2 separate regions of the Homo sapiens genome follow, and region 2 is linked to region 1. Evidence: fine-mapped expression QTL. Tissue or cell type: thyroid. Region 1 holds a variant in brackets; the other region holds the start of a gene. All regions are shown on one strand. Distances are between the middles of the regions.

Region 1 (8,090 bases):
TGGCGCGATCTTGGCTCACTGCAACCTCCCCCTCCCGGGTCAAGCGATTCTCCTGCCTCAGCCTCCCGAGTAGCTGGGACTACAGGCGCCCGCCACCACGCCCGGCTAATGTTTGTATTTTTAGTAGAGACGGGGTTTCACCATGTTGGCCAGGCTGGCCTCGAACTTCTGGCTTTAAGTGATCCGCCTGCCTCGGCCTCCCAAAGTGCTGCGATTCCAGGCGTGAGCCACCGCGCCCGGCCAAGGTCTTAATTCTTGCCTGCCTTTCTGCTCCCCTGTGAACTCTACTGGTTGTCTTTTTTCCTGCTTTATCCCTCGTCCTCGGTAGACAGTGATGGTTAAATGAATGAATGCATGAACAAATGACTGTCCAGGAGCTAGTACTGCATTGCATGTACACATTGATGACAACAGACATCGTACAATGCGCAATCTTGGCAAATTTATTCAAACCCTTTAGACTTCGCTCTCTCACAGTGCGACGCCGGGAGCCCATCACACGCTGAGGTCTGTCAGAGGCCCCAGAAACAGCCTCGGAAATGGAGGAGGCGGGGCTTCACCCCGACCACACCCCCTTGCGTTCAAAGCCTTTCCGCCTATGGGCCCGCCTCCTCGGCGCAGTGTGCAACTCTAATTGGTCGTCTCACTAATCCATCTGAGCACCTCGGCGCCGACTGGATCAACTGCTGAACTCGGGTTGCGCACTTCCCGGCGCTGGGAACGCGGAGCGGACGCAGTCTGGCCGCCATTGCGCTGCGGGGAAAGCGGCCTCTTGTGTGAGGGCCTGTGGGGTGCGTGGCAGGCGTTTAAGGCCGGGCTGCGGGAGGCGTGGTCGGGTCGGGCCGAGTGACCGAAGGGGTTAGGCCGGGCGGGGCTGGATGCACTGTGTGGCGGGACTGCAGGCCGGGGTCCCCGGACGCCTTTCTGCTGCGCTTCTTGTGGGCCCGGGCCTGTGGTTAGTGAATTTTTCTATCCCGCCGCTCCCCAGATTCTCCGGATATGGCCGGAGTGTTTCCTTATCGAGGGCCGGGTAACCCGGTGCCTGGCCCTCTAGCCCCGCTACCGGACTACATGTCGGAGGAGAAGCTGCAGGAGAAAGGTGAGGCGAGAGTGTGGAGCGGCGCGCGGGCCGGAGGCGGGGCGGGTGTGCGCGCGCGCAGGCGGGTGGGGACCCTCCCCGTTTGGGCAGCTCCTGAGGTGTCAGCTCCCTTGTTATTTCCAGTTAATTTTTCATCAAGTCATTTTAAGCGCGTATTATTTGCAAGCGCTGATCCAGCGGGGGTACAGTAGTGACGGAGACAAAATTCCTGTCCTTACGGGGTTTAAATTACAGCGGGAGAGACAGAGAATAACAAAACCTTGAAGCTCTGTAATAAAAATGTCAGGCCGGGCGCGGTGGCTCACGGTTGTAATCCCAGCACTTTGGGAGGCCCAGGCGGGCGGATCACCTGAGGTCAGGAGTTCGAGACCAGCCTGGCCAACACAGTGAAACCTCGTCTCTACGAAAAATACAAAAATGAGTCGTGTGTGGTGGCGCGTGTCTATAATCCCAGCTACTGGGGAGGCTGAGGCAGGAGAATGGCTTGAACCCAGGAGGCGGAGGTTGCAGTGAGCCGACATCGCACCATTGCACTCCAGCCTGGGAGACAGAGTGAAACAACCTCTCAAAAAAAAAAAAAAAAGTCAGATAGTGATCAATGTGATGAAAGGAAAAACAGAGTAAAATGGTAAGGGAATTGGCAAGGGGTGCTTCTTCCTGCTGGTGCCTGCTTCTCCCTCACACTCACTGACAGGAGCTTACCCTAGGGCAAGAGGTGAAGAGGATTAGGGGGAGGGTGTGCAGGCCTTTAAACTGAGGTGCCTTTCCAGCTCGAAAATGGCAGCAATTGCAGGCCAAGCGCTATGCAGAAAAGCGGAAGTTTGGGTTTGTGGATGCCCAGAAGGAAGACATGCCCCCAGAACATGTCAGGAAGATCATTCGAGACCATGGAGACATGACCAACAGGAAGTTCCGCCATGACAAAAGGGTTTACTTGGGGTAAGGAACATCCTGAAATAATTTCATTTGGAATTTGGCCCTTTTCCCTTCTCCCTGTCCCACAGTCTTGGATTGATGCTTTGACAGCTCATCTTGGTGGATATAAGAGAAAGGAGAAAACCAGTAGGAGTCTCTGATAATTTCTACATCTTCCACTTTTGCAGTCTGTTTCCCCTCTCTTCCCGATCTGGGACTGGTGCTTTAATTTGTCCTGTTGATGATATTATAAGATGTCCCTGGCCAGGCGCGGTGGCTCATGCCTGTAATCCCAGCACTTTGGGAGGCCGAGGCGGGTGGATCATGAGGTCAGGAGATCGAGACCATCCTGGCTAACACGGTGAAACCCCGTCTCTACTAAAAATACACAAAATTAGCTGGGCGTGGTGGCAGGTGTCTGTAGTCCCAGCTACTTGGGAGGCTGAGGCAGGAGAATGGCGTGAACCTGGGAGGCGGAACTTGTAGTGAGCCGAGATCACACCACTGCACTCTGGCCTGGGCGAAAGTACGAGACTCCGTCTCAAAAAAAAAAAAAAAATGAAAAATAAGATGTCCCTATGGTTGAGCTGGTTGAAGTCCAGAGTGGGATACTGTGCATAGTGGCAGCCTGTCGCTCCTCAGGGACCTGAATTCTGTGTTTGGGGTATTTAATTTCAGAGGTTTCCCTACTCCTGTTTTTTCTGTGGCTCTAAACTGGGCTAGTACAGGTACAGATGTCTTAGCAGATTCCTGTTCTATTTGGACACAAAAATGTTTGCCATGTAATGAACTGGAAGTTTTGTTTATTTCAAAAAATACTTAGAGAACTGTGCTGGCTGCTGGGGATATAGTAGCGAGCAGAGGGTAACAATCTCCGCCTTTCTGCAGTGTGCGGTCTAGTGGCCTGACAGACATGAGACAACTGGTGATAGTGAAGTATGGTGAATACTTTATTATGATTTATGGGAAGATGCGGAGGGAATAGGATGTGAGAGAGCCGCAAAGCTGTCTCCAGAGGGATAGCCGTTGATTTAGAGGAGCTGATACCAGCATTGTGGGATTATGACGTTTAAGAAGAGTGGTGCAAGGTGAAGTTGGAGAGGGAGAGGCAGGGTTTCTGGTTAGGAAGGGCCTGTGGGCTAAGTTTGGGAGTTTGGATTGTAAGGTAGGACTGTGGAACATGAACATGTGGCTTCTCTGCATGGGACAGGTAGCAGAACACCTCGTCATTTCTGATAGCCTTCTCTTTTTCTAATGTGCCAGTGCCCTAAAGTACATGCCCCACGCAGTCCTCAAACTCCTGGAGAACATGCCTATGCCTTGGGAGCAGATTCGGGATGTGCCTGTGCTGTACCACATCACTGGAGCCATTTCCTTCGTCAATGAGATTCCCTGGGTCATTGAACCTGTCTACATCTCCCAGTGGGGGTGAGAAAGGCTGAAATATGGTGGGTGGTGGTGGTGGTGGTGGTTGGGAGGCAGTGGGTAGAAATGGTTGTGTGATGTCTTGCCTTCCAGGTCAATGTGGATTATGATGCGCCGAGAAAAAAGAGATAGGAGGCATTTCAAGAGGATGCGTTTTCCCCCTTTTGATGATGAGGAGCCGCCCTTGGACTATGCTGACAACATCCTAGATGTTGAGCCACTGGAGGCCATTCAGCTAGAGCTGGACCCTGAGGAGGACGCCCCTGTGTTGGACTGGTTCTATGACCACCAGCCGTTGAGGGACAGCAGGAAGTGAGTGATAGATGGAGATACTACACCTGGGAGGAGTTCTGGAAATGCAGAAGGAGTCCTGGGAGATCAGTAGGTGGTATGGGTTTGTCTAGCTGCTTACTTGAGGTGGGCCTTTCATTTTTTACCTAGGTATGTAAATGGCTCCACTTACCAGCGCTGGCAGTTCACACTACCTATGATGTCGACTCTCTACCGCCTGGCTAATCAGCTCCTGACAGACTTGGTGGATGACAACTACTTCTACCTGTTTGATTTGAAGGCCTTCTTTACGTCCAAGGCACTCAATATGGCCATTCCTGGAGGCCCCAAATTTGAACCTCTTGTTCGAGACATCAACCTACAGTGAGTTGGAGAGATTAGGGATTTTAGACATTTTGAGTTGAATGAAACGTAATCTTGATCCTTAAAGTCCTGATATAACTTCCAAATTAGTCTGTTTACACCAGGTGCAGTGGCTCACGCTGTAATCTCAGCACTTTGGGAAGCTGAGGCAGGAGGATTGCTTGAGCCCAGAAGTTTGAGACCAATCTGGGCAAAATGGCAAAACCCTATCTTTACCAAAAAATGTAGCTGGGCGTGGTGACACTCACAGCTTCGTGTAGTCTCAGTTACTTGGGAAGCTGAGCTGTGGGAGGATTGTTTGAGCCCAGGAGGTCACGGCTGCAGTGAACGATGATCATGCCATTGCATTCCAGCTTGGGTGATAAGAGTGAGACCCTGTCTCAAAAAAAAAAAAGTCTGCTTATTCTTGATGTTGTACCCTAGGGATGAAGACTGGAATGAATTCAATGATATTAACAAGATTATCATCCGGCAGCCTATCCGCACTGAGTACAAGATTGCTTTTCCTTACTTGTACAACAATCTTCCACACCATGTCCACCTCACCTGGTAAGAGACCTGGAACACAACATTTGGAAAGGAGAAGGCTGCTGTTTAGGTTGGGCCAGGGCGGGAAAACTTTGGCTGACTCTTCCTTTCATTTTAGGTACCATACTCCCAATGTTGTATTCATCAAAACTGAGGATCCTGACTTGCCAGCTTTCTACTTTGACCCTTTGATCAACCCAATCTCCCATAGGCACTCAGTCAAGGTGAGGAAGGGAAGGGATGCTTTCCCTCAGCTCTTCTAGGAGAAATGCGTGAGGTTGGCTGATGTTACTAAACGCTCAGGTGGAGGGAGATGTGTTTTCCGTCTTGCTAAGT[G/A]TTCCCCTTGAGCTATAAGCGAATATGAGAATTCAGCATTTGCTTTAAAACATGTCATTGGTATAATCCTGTTTTCTGTGATTATCCTTTTGGACTTTACGGTTCTTTTCTTGGGTGCTCTAGATAATCTGTCCCGGTCTGTCTCTATTGTGTTTGTTTGTTTTAGCCTTTATATTGAGATGTAGTTAACATACCATACAAGTTATCCATTTAAAGTGTGTAATTTGATGGTTTTTAGCTTATTCTCAGAGTTGTCCCAACTGTCACGACATGCAATTTGAGAATATTTTTATTACTTGAGAAAGAAACCCTTAGCAGTTACTCGCCATTTCTCCCCAACTTCCTTACGCAACCACTAATCTACTTTCTGTCTATAGATTTGGCTATTCTACACATTTCATATGATAGAATGAAATAGAATCGTACACTATGTAGTCTTCAGTGACTGGCTTCTTAAGCTTACCATAATGTTTTTGATGCTCATCTGTGTTCCGTTGTGTCCAAGCCCAGTGTTTGGAGCTTGGGTGGGAGATGATTGCAATGTTGACCTCCTGTGATGTTGGGGCTCCATTGGGAGGCTTTCTGGTGGTCAGCCAGTTGAGGTGTGAGAAGTGACGCTTGCTTTCCTGGTGGCCCTGTCTTGTTCTTTGCTGTCTTGGTTTCCTTTGTGCTGGCACTTCAGGGCTGCTTTTGTCAGACAGCCCAGTTTCCATAGCAGATACAGGCTTTGTGCTTGGCCCCAGAGAATTTCCCTCATCTTAAGTCTGTGCCTAGTTCAGCAGGAGCTAAACCCTTAGAGGGATTCCTTTTTCAGAGCCAGGAACCATTGCCGGATGATGATGAGGAATTTGAGCTCCCGGAGTTTGTGGAGCCCTTCCTGAAGGACACACCCCTCTATACAGACAATACAGCCAATGGCATTGCCCTGCTCTGGGCCCCGCGGCCCTTCAACCTACGCTCTGGTCGCACCCGTCGGGCCCTGGACATACCCCTTGTCAAGAACTGGTAAGGTTTTTCCCTGTGGCAGGGGGAATGATAGTGGATGTGTAGGAGAAAAGACTCCAACTAGGTGGGCATGTAGCCTTTTTTTTAAATTCTTTTTTTTTTTTTCCCATAAAAATGGTAGACAACCCAAGGCTTGCAGCCTTTAGCAGAGTGTCTGGAAGAAGAGATGGCCAAACTCTGGTGGGCTTATTTTTCCAGGTATCGGGAGCATTGTCCTGCCGGGCAGCCTGTGAAAGTGAGGGTCTCCTACCAGAAGCTGCTTAAGTACTATGTGCTGAATGCCCTGAAGCATCGGCCCCCTAAGGCTCAAAAGAAGAGGTAAGGTGCCCCAGGGGCCCTGCGCAGACTTCTGTTCCAGAGATATCAGTAGGCTGACTCTTACTCTCCATGTTCCCACCTCAGGTATTTGTTCCGCTCCTTCAAAGCCACCAAATTCTTTCAGTCCACAAAGCTGGACTGGGTGGAGGTTGGGCTCCAGGTTTGCCGCCAGGGCTACAACATGCTCAACCTTCTCATTCACCGCAAAAACCTCAACTACCTGCACCTGGACTACAACTTCAACCTCAAGCCTGTGAAAACGCTCACCACCAAGGTGCCTGCATTGGACCCTAGGGGCCTCCTGGGCTTCAAGGACGGACAGTTGTTTTCCTCTGGTTACTGATGAAGGCATACATCAGTTGGGTCCATTGCTCATTCACGTTCTGTCTGTTTTTTGCATCTTCTCCAGGAAAGAAAGAAATCTCGTTTTGGGAATGCTTTCCACCTGTGTCGGGAAGTTCTGCGTTTGACTAAGCTGGTGGTGGATAGTCACGTGCAGTATCGGCTGGGCAATGTGGATGCCTTCCAGGTAAGGTTAGGTATTCCCAACCCCTGCCTGGGTGAGGACGCTGGAGGAAGCCTGTGCTGACCGTGGAGCTGGTTTAAGCTCCAGGTCTGATGGGGCAATTGTATTGCAGCTGGCAGATGGATTGCAGTATATATTTGCCCATGTTGGGCAGTTGACGGGCATGTATCGATACAAATACAAGCTGATGCGACAGATTCGCATGTGCAAGGACCTGAAGCATCTCATCTATTATCGTTTCAACACGGTGAGACCTTGACTTTACTGACTTTCTTTTTTTTGAGACAGAGTCTTACTCTTGTCTCTTGGGCTGGTGTGCAATGGCACGATCTTGGCTCACTGCAACCTCCGCCTCCTGAGTTCAAGCAATTCTCCTGCCTCAGCCTCCCGAGTAGCTGGGATTACAGGTGCCCGCCACCACGCCTGGCAATTTTTTTTTTGTTTTGTTTTGAAACTGAGTCTTTCTCTGTTGCCCCAGCTGGAGTACAATGGCACGATCTTGGCTCACCACAGCCTCCGCCTCCCGGGTTGAAGTGATTCTCCTGCTTCAGCCTCCCAAGTAGCTGGGACTACAGGCGCGCACCACCATGCCTGGCTAGTTTTTGAAATTTTAGTAGAGATGGGGTTTCACTGTATTGGCCAGGCTGGTCTTGAACTCCTGACCTCAGGTGATCCACACTCCTCGGCCTCCCAAAGTACTGGGATTACCAGCGTGAGTCACCGTGCCCAGCCTCACTGGACTTAACTTTCTCAGATCTTTTTTCATGTATACATTTAGACAGGGCTCTTTCCAGGGACCTATTTGGAGAGCAGCTATGACTGTGTCCTTACTGCTCCTTTAAATTCACATGGGCGATCTTAGTTCCTGGTTTTTGCCTTAAGGTTTCTCATTTACCCTTTTGTTTTAGATGTTGAGGTCCCAGAGTTTTTTTTTCTTTTTACCCCTCTACTGCCATACCTACATTCCTCTGTATGTATATTATACATATATGCCCCACCTCTGCCCAGGTTTCTATTGTTGTTTAAATGCATTGCTAACTTGTATTCTTAACTTCTGCTTGGGATCGTAGGGCCCTGTAGGGAAGGGTCCTGGCTGTGGCTTCTGGGCTGCCGGTTGGCGAGTCTGGCTCTTTTTCATGCGTGGCATTACCCCTTTATTAGAGCGATGGCTTGGCAACCTCCTGGCCCGGCAGTTTGAAGGTGAGTGGTTTTCTCTGTGTCCAACTTCTCCTGTTATTGCTTCAAAAGTACCTGCCCCTGTTTGAGTCTGTTCCCTGCTCTTGT
Region 2 (8,090 bases), 32 kb after region 1:
CCACCACCAGCAACTATGAGACCCAGACTTTCTCATCCAAGACTGAGTGGAGGGTCAGGTACTGTCGGGCAAGAGGGTGGGGATGGAAAGGCCGGCTGCACTACCTAAGGTGCTGGGCTGAGCGATGCTGACACTCCCTGCCTGTTTTTAGGGCCATCTCTGCTGCCAACCTGCACCTAAGGACCAATCACATCTATGTTTCATCTGACGACATCAAGGAGACTGGCTACACCTACATCCTTCCCAAGAATGTGCTTAAGAAGTTCATCTGCATATCTGACCTTCGGGCCCAAGTGAGTAAGTGGACTCAGCTAGGCCACAGTGTGTGCCCAACTCATTTTGTGCCTAAAACTCAGACCTGAGATTGTCTGGAACTTGAGATGCTGGTTTCAAGATTCATGGATGAGTAATTATACAAGGATAGCCAAAACAACGAGGTGGGTTTTGGCCCCATGAGATAGCAAAAGCTGTGGCAGCTGAGAGAAGGTAGTAATTGTAGTATTGGCCTGATAGTATTTGGAAGAGAACAGATATGGTCAGAAACAAATTCCTGACCAGGTGTGCGTGCTGGCTCATGCCTGTAATCCCAACACTCGGCTGGGCACAGTGGCTAATGCCTATAATCCCAGCACTTTGGGAGGCCTAGGTGGGTGGATCACCTGAGGTCAGGGGTTTGAGACCAGCCTGACCAATATGGTGAAACCCTGTCTCTACTAAAAATACAAAAAATTAGCCAGGCATGGTGGCATGCGCCCGTAGTTGCAGCTACTAGGGAGGTTGAGACAGGAGAATTGCTTGAACCCGGGAGGTGAGGTGGAGCTTGCAGTGAGCCAAGATTGCATCACTGCACTCCAGCCTGGGCAACAGAGCAAGACCCCGTCTAAAAAAACAAAACCAAAAAAAACGTGGCTGTAGTCCCAGCTACTCAGGAGGATGAGGTTGCTTGAACGCAAGCAGTGAGCTTTGATGACCCCACTGCACTCCAGGCTGGGCACAGTGGCTCATGACTGTAATCCCAGCACTGTGGGAGGCCGAGGTGGGCAGATCTTTTGAGCCCAGGAGTTCGAGACCAGCCTGGGCAACATGACGAAATGGAGTCTCTACAAAAAAAAAAAAAAAAAACTAGCCAGGCATGGTGGCATACACCTGTAATCTCAGCTACTCAGGAGGCTGAGGTGGGAGGATCACCTGATCCTGGAGGGTGGTGAGTGTAGTGAGCTGAGATCATGTCACTGCCTGCTAGCCTGGGTGACAGAGTGATACCCTGCTTCAAAAAAGAGAAAAGATGCATAACTTTACTAGTGTATCAGGGATATTATAGTTTATAAAACATCATTTTGGGCCAAGGTGGGTGAATCACTTGAGGTCAGGAGTTCAAGACCAGCTTGGCCAACGTGGCGAAACCCCGTCTCTCTTAAATATATGAAAATTAGCGGGGCATGGTGGCATGTGCCTGTAGTCCCAGCTACTCAGGAAGCTGAGGCAGGAGAATTGCTTGAACCCAGGAGGCGGAGGTCGCAGTGAGCTGAGATCACACCACTGCACTCCAGCCTTGCTGACAGAGTGAGACTCCATCTCAAACCCACTATTTAGTGGCTGTCAGGTTGGCAAATTTGAAAAGATTGTTAATATCCTGTGTGGGTGAGTTTATAGTAAACAGATCCTCTTTCTTTCTTGGTGATAATGTAAAACTTAAAATAGCACCAAGTGCTGGTTTTCCAGATGTTTTCAGCTTGTGAAAATACACTGAGCTGCATGTGTGCTCATTTGCTTGTGAATACTATGCTTAATAATCAGCTGGGGAGCTTGTGAGCAGTGCAGATTCCTGGACCCCACTCAGGAGATTCTGATGTGGTAAGTCCGCGATGAGGTCCATGTCTAACATTTTGAACAAGCACCCCAGCTGATTCTGATACAGGGGGTTCTGATCACGTTTTAAGAAACTCTGTCCTCGTTCTTGGGGGAAGGAAGGAAACAGAGGGCTGGCAGCTCCAACTCTGACCTGGTACTAAGAAGAGTTTTGGTTCCTGACCCCTTTGTCTCCAGATTGCAGGATACCTATATGGGGTGAGCCCACCAGATAACCCCCAGGTGAAGGAGATCCGCTGCATTGTGATGGTGCCGCAGTGGGGCACTCACCAGACCGTGCACCTGCCTGGCCAGCTGCCCCAGCATGAGTACCTCAAGGTAATGGGGAGTGATGGAGCCTGGGAGTGTGGAAAAGCTGGTGCGATTCCTGTCTGTGGATGGGATTCAGCTCTGTACTCCTCTTTACCTATAGGAGATGGAACCCTTAGGTTGGATCCACACTCAGCCCAATGAGTCCCCGCAGTTATCACCCCAGGATGTCACCACCCATGCCAAGATCATGGCTGACAACCCATCTTGGGATGGCGAGAAGACCATTATCATCACATGCAGGTGGGCCTGGGCTCCTTGGGAGGAAGTATGGTGGGGCAGGGATTGCAGGCCAGGGCCCAGAACAGTGGCCTGAGCTGTTACTCTGTCCTCGTTCCTCCCCCAGCTTCACGCCAGGCTCCTGTACACTGACGGCCTACAAGCTGACCCCCAGTGGCTACGAATGGGGCCGCCAGAACACAGACAAGGGCAACAACCCCAAGGGCTACCTGCCTTCACACTATGAGAGGGTGCAGATGCTGCTGTCGGACCGTTTCCTTGGCTTCTTCATGGTCCCTGCCCAGTCCTCGTGGAACTACAACTTCATGGGTAAGTGGGAGGAGCCTGGGGATGTGGGGATAGCAGTAGGGATAAGGTGAGGCCATCGCCCTTTGCACTTGGGGCCTGGCTGGCTTGGAGGTGGCGCAGGCTGCATGAGGCAGGAGCCCTGTTAACATTGGCTGTTTCCTTCTCCCCGAAGGTGTTCGGCATGACCCCAACATGAAATATGAGCTACAGCTGGCGAACCCCAAAGAGTTCTACCACGAGGTGCACAGGCCCTCTCACTTCCTCAACTTTGCTCTCCTGCAGGAGGGGGAGGTTTACTCTGCGGATCGGGAGGACCTGTATGCCTGACCGTTTCCCTGCCTCCTGCTTCAGCCTCCCGAGGCCGAAGCCTCAGCCCCTCCAGACAGGCCGCTGACATTCAGCAGTTTGGCCTCTTTCCCTCTGTCTGTGCTTGTGTTGTTGACCTCCTGATGGCTTGTCATCCTGAATAAAATATAATAATAAATTTTGTATAAATAGGAGTTCAGGGGCTGGTTTGTTTTTTTTTTCCCCCCCAAACTCAAATTCTGGATTTAGGTCTAACAGGAGGCTGGACTGGAGCGGTTCACAGCAAGATGCTGGGCTCGGCTGTGAAGGGGGGAGTATGAGGCCCCCTTCCTATTCAGGGCTTTGGGGTAGATAGCCCCTGGACTCAGTGGAGACCTGAGGCAGGGCTGGGCTTTCACACTCCGCTGCCTTGACCACATTTGCTGCTTTTTCCACAAAACTACTTGGAAGCTCTCGCCTCCTTTCCACAGTTTTGGGAGCAGTTGCCCTTTCCCGGGTCTAGGAACTCTGTGGCTTGTGCTGAGCGGCTGCGGTGTCCAGCCCAGCCCTTTAAGCTTTCTGTGTCAGTCCTGGTCAGGAAAACAAGCACACAGGCAGGCAGTTTGTGTACAGCCGGGCGGAGGCCAGAGACCGGCTGCCTACCTGTCACCTCTCGCCTGGAGCGGGCCACTGCCAAGTTGGCCCCATGACTCCAAACGGGCGGAGCCTGGATTGGGCCTGTGGGGAGGGCTCCACTCAAGTGACCACTTGCAGCCCTGAACCTCAGCTCTTGGACGCCTGGCTGGAAGTTGGCTGTCTTGTTTCCTGTGACCTTGGGGGTGGAAAGGACAGAGCCCAGGCGACCTAGGGCACTATCTCCCTACCCCACGCCTTCTCCCTTCCTCGTTCCTCCCTACCCTTATCGCTTCTACCCCGCCCACACCGCCCTAAACGGCTTCCTGGGGCGGAACTGTTTCGCTTTTCCCCGTCCCAGTGGAGGGTGGGGTGGGGGGGTCGCAGCCCTAAGCCTCTGGGAGACATGGAGCCCAGGAGGGCGGCGCCCGGGGTGCCTGGCTGGGGGTCTCGGGAGGCCGCGGGGTCGGCATCGGCCGCGGAGCTTGTGTACCATCTAGCCGGGGCCCTGGGCACTGAGCTGCAGGATCTGGCGCGCCGTTTCGGGCCGGAGGCGGCGGCCGGGCTGGTGCCGCTAGTGGTGCGGGCGCTGGAGCTCTTGGAACAGGCTGCCGTGGGGCCCGCCCCGGACTCGGTGAGTCATGGCCCTCCCTTCGCCACCCACGGGGCCGGCAGGGCCGAAGCCTGAGACCCGGGTCTCCCCAGCTGCAGGTGTCGGCGCAGCCGGCGGAGCAGGAGCTGCGGCGGCTGCGGGAGGAGAACGAGCGCCTCCGCAGGGAGCTGCGCGCGGGGCCACAGGGTAAGCGCAGCCCCGGCCAGGGCAGGGCGGGTGACGACCTGCTCGGGTCCTCCCCTCCCTCCCGCGGGCCGCGCGCCGCCGCCGCTAAGAACGCCCCTTCCTCAGAGGAGCGCGCGCTGCTGCGGCAGCTCAAGGAGGTCACGGACCGACAGCGGGACGAACTCCGGGCGCACAACCGCGACCTGCGGCAGCGCGGCCAGGAGACCGAGGCGGTGAGGGCGGGGCGGGGCTCTGGGGCGGGGCGGGGGCGGAGCGTGGCAGGCGCTGGGCGGGGCTCCGGGGGCGGGGGCGGAGCGAGGCAGGCGCTGGGCGGGGCTCCGGGGGGCCCTCGGTGCCCCGCCCACCCCACCCTTTGCTCCGCTCCCAGTTGCAGGAGCAGCTGCAGCGCCTCCTGCTGGTGAACGCTGAGCTGCGGCACAAGCTGGCGGCCATGCAGACCCAGCTGCGCGCCGCGCAGGACCGCGAGAGGGAGCGCCAGCAGCCTGGCGAAGCCGCGACTCCGCAGGCTAAAGAGCGAGCGCGGGGGCAGGCCGGGCGGCCCGGGCACCAGCACGGACAGGAGCCCGAATGGGCGACCGCCGGCGCAGGCGCCCCAGGGAACCCTGAGGACCCGGTGAGTGCCGTATGAGGGCAAGGACCCAGCCCAGGACGCAGCGTCCAGCCCTCGGTGGGCACTCAAGCAAGGTTTGCATGCTGCACAGCAGGTCGGCCAGGAAGCGGGGAGGTGGCAGACAGATCTGCGCCCCCGGCCGGCCTCGGCCCCCGCTCTCAGCTGGAGCACTGCTCTGTTATCTGTTAGGGCACCCTTGTCCCCCAAGTCTCCCGGCCCGTCACTTCCTCTAGCATTCCCATGATGGCCCTGGGGCGGGGGAACGCCAGCCGAGGCGACCCTCTGACTGTGCCTGTCCTTCCAAAGGCGGAGGCCGCGCAGCAGCTCGGGCGCCCCTCGGAGGCAGGGCAGTGCCGCTTCAGTCGGGAGGAGTTTGAGCAGATCCTTCAGGAGCGGAATGAACTCAAAGCCAAAGTGTTCCTGCTCAAGGAGGAACTGGCCTACTTCCAGCGGTGAGGACGCTGGGAAGCCGGGGGGCCTCCGATCACCCCACCTCATTCTCCAGTCATTGACATGTCCACAGTGACATGTGCCAGGCCTGCGCTGGGAACTGGGAGGACATGAATTGTACAGCCCTTGCCCTCCTGCAATGTCATCCAGACAGGGGAGAGGGACAGTACAAAGGGTTGCAGCTGCAGCAGCCAGGGAATCTCTCCTAGGAGGGGGCCACGGGGCCACCTAATTTAAGGTCTGAGGGTGTCAGCAAGGCAGAGCGCTTCCCGTGTTCAGGGAAGAGCTGCGTGCACAGGTACCAGGAGTGAGGACTGCGGCTGGCATCTCCACTGCTGGCATCCCCATGGCTGGCATCACCAGGGCTTTCTCCCTCCCTGCCCCTTTTCTTTAGGGAGCTGCTCACAGACCACCGGGTCCCCGGCCTTCTGCTCGAGGCCATGAAGGTGGCTGTCCGGAAGCAGCGGAAGAAGATCAAGGCCAAGATGTTAGGGACACCAGAGGAAGCAGAGAGCAGGTAGGTCCCTGCCTGCATTCCCACGGAGCCAGGCCTCCCTCCCTCATTCTGCTGAGCCTGATGACCCAGCCTGGTCACCCTCTGAGCCCATTGTCTCAGACTGAGGCTGTCACCCCAACCCGGTCACCCCTTGAGCCTCCCTAGCCTGGCCGCTTCTAGGGCCTGCTGACCTGCTCTGGCTGTGTCCCATGGCCGCTGTCCAGCCTGCGCCCTTCTCCCTGGATCTCACCACTCCCCTTGCCTTGCCTGCCATCCATTCTGCCTGACAACACTGCCTCTCCACATTCATTCTTCAAGTTCCTGTCTTGGCTGGGTCTGTTTATTCTTACGGGGGTGAAACTGTAGCCGCGGCTGTGTCAGGGCCTGCTGTGTGTCAAGCTATAAAATAAACCCTTGGCAGGGCGCGGTGGCTCACGCCTGTAATCCCAGCACTTTGAGAGGCTAAGGTGGGTAGATCACCTGAGGTCAGGAGTTCGAGACCAGCGTGGCCAACATGGTGAAACTCCGTCTCTACTAAAAATACAAAAATTAGCCGGGCATGGTGGCATGTGCCTATAATCCCAGCTACTCAGGAGGCTGCGGCAGGAGAATCGCTTGAACTTGGGAGGCGGAGGTTGCAGTGAGCTGAGATCGCACCACTGCACTCCAGCCTGGGCGACAGAGTGAGACCCTGTCTCAAAAAAAAAAAAATTAAAAATTAAAGGCTCGACATCCTGCATCTCCCCAGGGTTGCCTTCTCTCCAGCCCCGGGGGCCCTGCAGTCCCTCCATCCCCCCTGCTGGATTCCTGTTGTCCCTCAGGGCCTTGATCAATGGCCCTCACTTCTCCTCTCTCCTCTGTCTCAGTGAGGATGAGGCTGGCCCATGGATCCTGCTCTCCGATGACAAGGGAGACCATCCCCCACCCCCGGAGTCCAAAATACAGAGTTTGTATGTTGGGGAAAGGGGAAAGGCAAGAGTGTGGGGAGGGAGGAAGGGCCCTGGCTGGTCCTTCTCAGGATCCCCTTTCCCGCTTCTCTGCCCGTCACCCTGCTGTGCTTGGCTCTAAGCACACCGTCCCCTCCTGCTTCTCTGGCCCTGGCCCCCATCACCTTCACACTCCCTCAGGCTGCCCTTTCTTCCCCCTCTCCCCTTTTCTCACCATCCCCTGCCCTCACCCATATCCTTGACCTCTCTGGCTTCCTGGCTCAAAGTGCCTCTGGCTGTCTCTCTCCAGCTTTGGCCTATGGTATCGGGGTAAAGCTGAATCCTCTGAGGATGAGACCAGCAGCCCTGCACCCAGCAAGCTAGGGGGAGAAGAGGAGGCCCAACCACAGTCTCCAGCTCCTGATCCGCCCTGTTCTGCCCTCCACGAACACCTTTGTCTGGGGGCCTCAGCCGCCCCAGAGGCCTGACTTAGGGGTCTGGCTGTGGAAGGATGTGTGGCCTCAAATGAGGACAGGGCTCCCGCCTTCACAGCCCTCGCCAGGGGTCTGCCCCAATCCTGGCCTGCATCAGGGCAGGACGGGGTCTCAGCCCGCCTCCCTCTCTACGTCTCTGTACCGAGCCTCTGGGGCCAGATATAAGAGTGCCTCTCTGAGTCTCAGTTTCCCCATCCATGAAATGAGAGCTGACTGCCTAGCTCCCAGGGCTTTGTGCAGACGGCCTGAGCTCATGTAATAAAGAACTGCCCGTAATACACAGAAACTGTTCCTCGCCTGTCTGTCCATGTCTGTGCCACCTCCCAACCCTGCCAGGAGCAGAGGCAGGCTGAGGGGTCCTCGCTGGTCTCCTTGCTCAGTCACTGGGTGGGGTGGCTTCTTGCAGCTCAGGCCTTGCTTTGGGAGTGTGGCCTGATGGAAAGCCGTGGCTCCCAGCCTCAGTCCACCCCCTTCCCTGGCCCCGGCACCCAGGGACCTGCAACTTCATTCTTCTGGCCCTTCCAGGCCCAGGCCAGTCAGCCCTGCCATTGCCTTTCTTTCCCTTTCTTTTTTTGAGTGTCAGTCTTTCCAGCCACCCCCTCCCTCTCAGGGAGGTGCCTCGTGGCAGCCCGCCCCTCCGGCCTGGTTTCCTCAGGAAAAGCCCTGAGAGGAAGCAGGGAGGGGGTTGGGA

Alleles and levels. Alleles are on the strand shown, and positions count from the first base shown. SD is a standard deviation of normalised expression in the study named.
For the expression in thyroid of the gene that starts at base 3,969 in region 2, G is the low allele of the variant in region 1 and A is the other (large effect, 0.84 SD a copy in GTEx).

What was found. PIP is the estimated chance that this variant, and not a neighbour inherited with it, causes the effect.
Region 2: it holds the start of RILP, and the variant in region 1 is fine-mapped to the expression of RILP in thyroid (GTEx, PIP above 0.99).

The regions. Positions count from the first base shown.
Region 1 is chr17:1,677,481-1,685,570 of GRCh38, reverse strand. It overlaps PRPF8 (pre-mRNA processing factor 8), which reads left to right and starts at 704. Exons shown (of 43, transcript NM_006445.4): 1 at 704-791; 2 at 989-1,099; 3 at 1,870-2,038; 4 at 3,278-3,442; 5 at 3,533-3,751; 6 at 3,881-4,093; 7 at 4,517-4,642; 8 at 4,740-4,845; 9 at 5,772-5,962; 10 at 6,161-6,280; 11 at 6,365-6,554; 12 at 6,690-6,809; 13 at 6,919-7,053; 14 at 7,877-8,006. The coding sequence starts at 1,000. The variant G/A (reference allele first, on the strand shown) is at 4,958.
Region 2 is chr17:1,645,745-1,653,834 of GRCh38, reverse strand. It overlaps RILP (Rab interacting lysosomal protein), which reads left to right and starts at 3,969. Exons shown (of 8, transcript NM_031430.3): 1 at 3,969-4,258; 2 at 4,330-4,423; 3 at 4,529-4,635; 4 at 4,791-5,036; 5 at 5,340-5,485; 6 at 5,878-6,000; 7 at 6,846-6,929; 8 at 7,216-7,685. The coding sequence starts at 4,031. The coding sequence ends at 7,393. It overlaps PRPF8 (pre-mRNA processing factor 8), which reads left to right. Exons shown (of 43, transcript NM_006445.4): 38 at 1-58; 39 at 152-293; 40 at 2,047-2,187; 41 at 2,282-2,421; 42 at 2,525-2,727; 43 at 2,879-3,206. The coding sequence ends at 3,033. RefSeq lists an enhancer at 2,222-2,732 and a silencer at 4,366-4,660.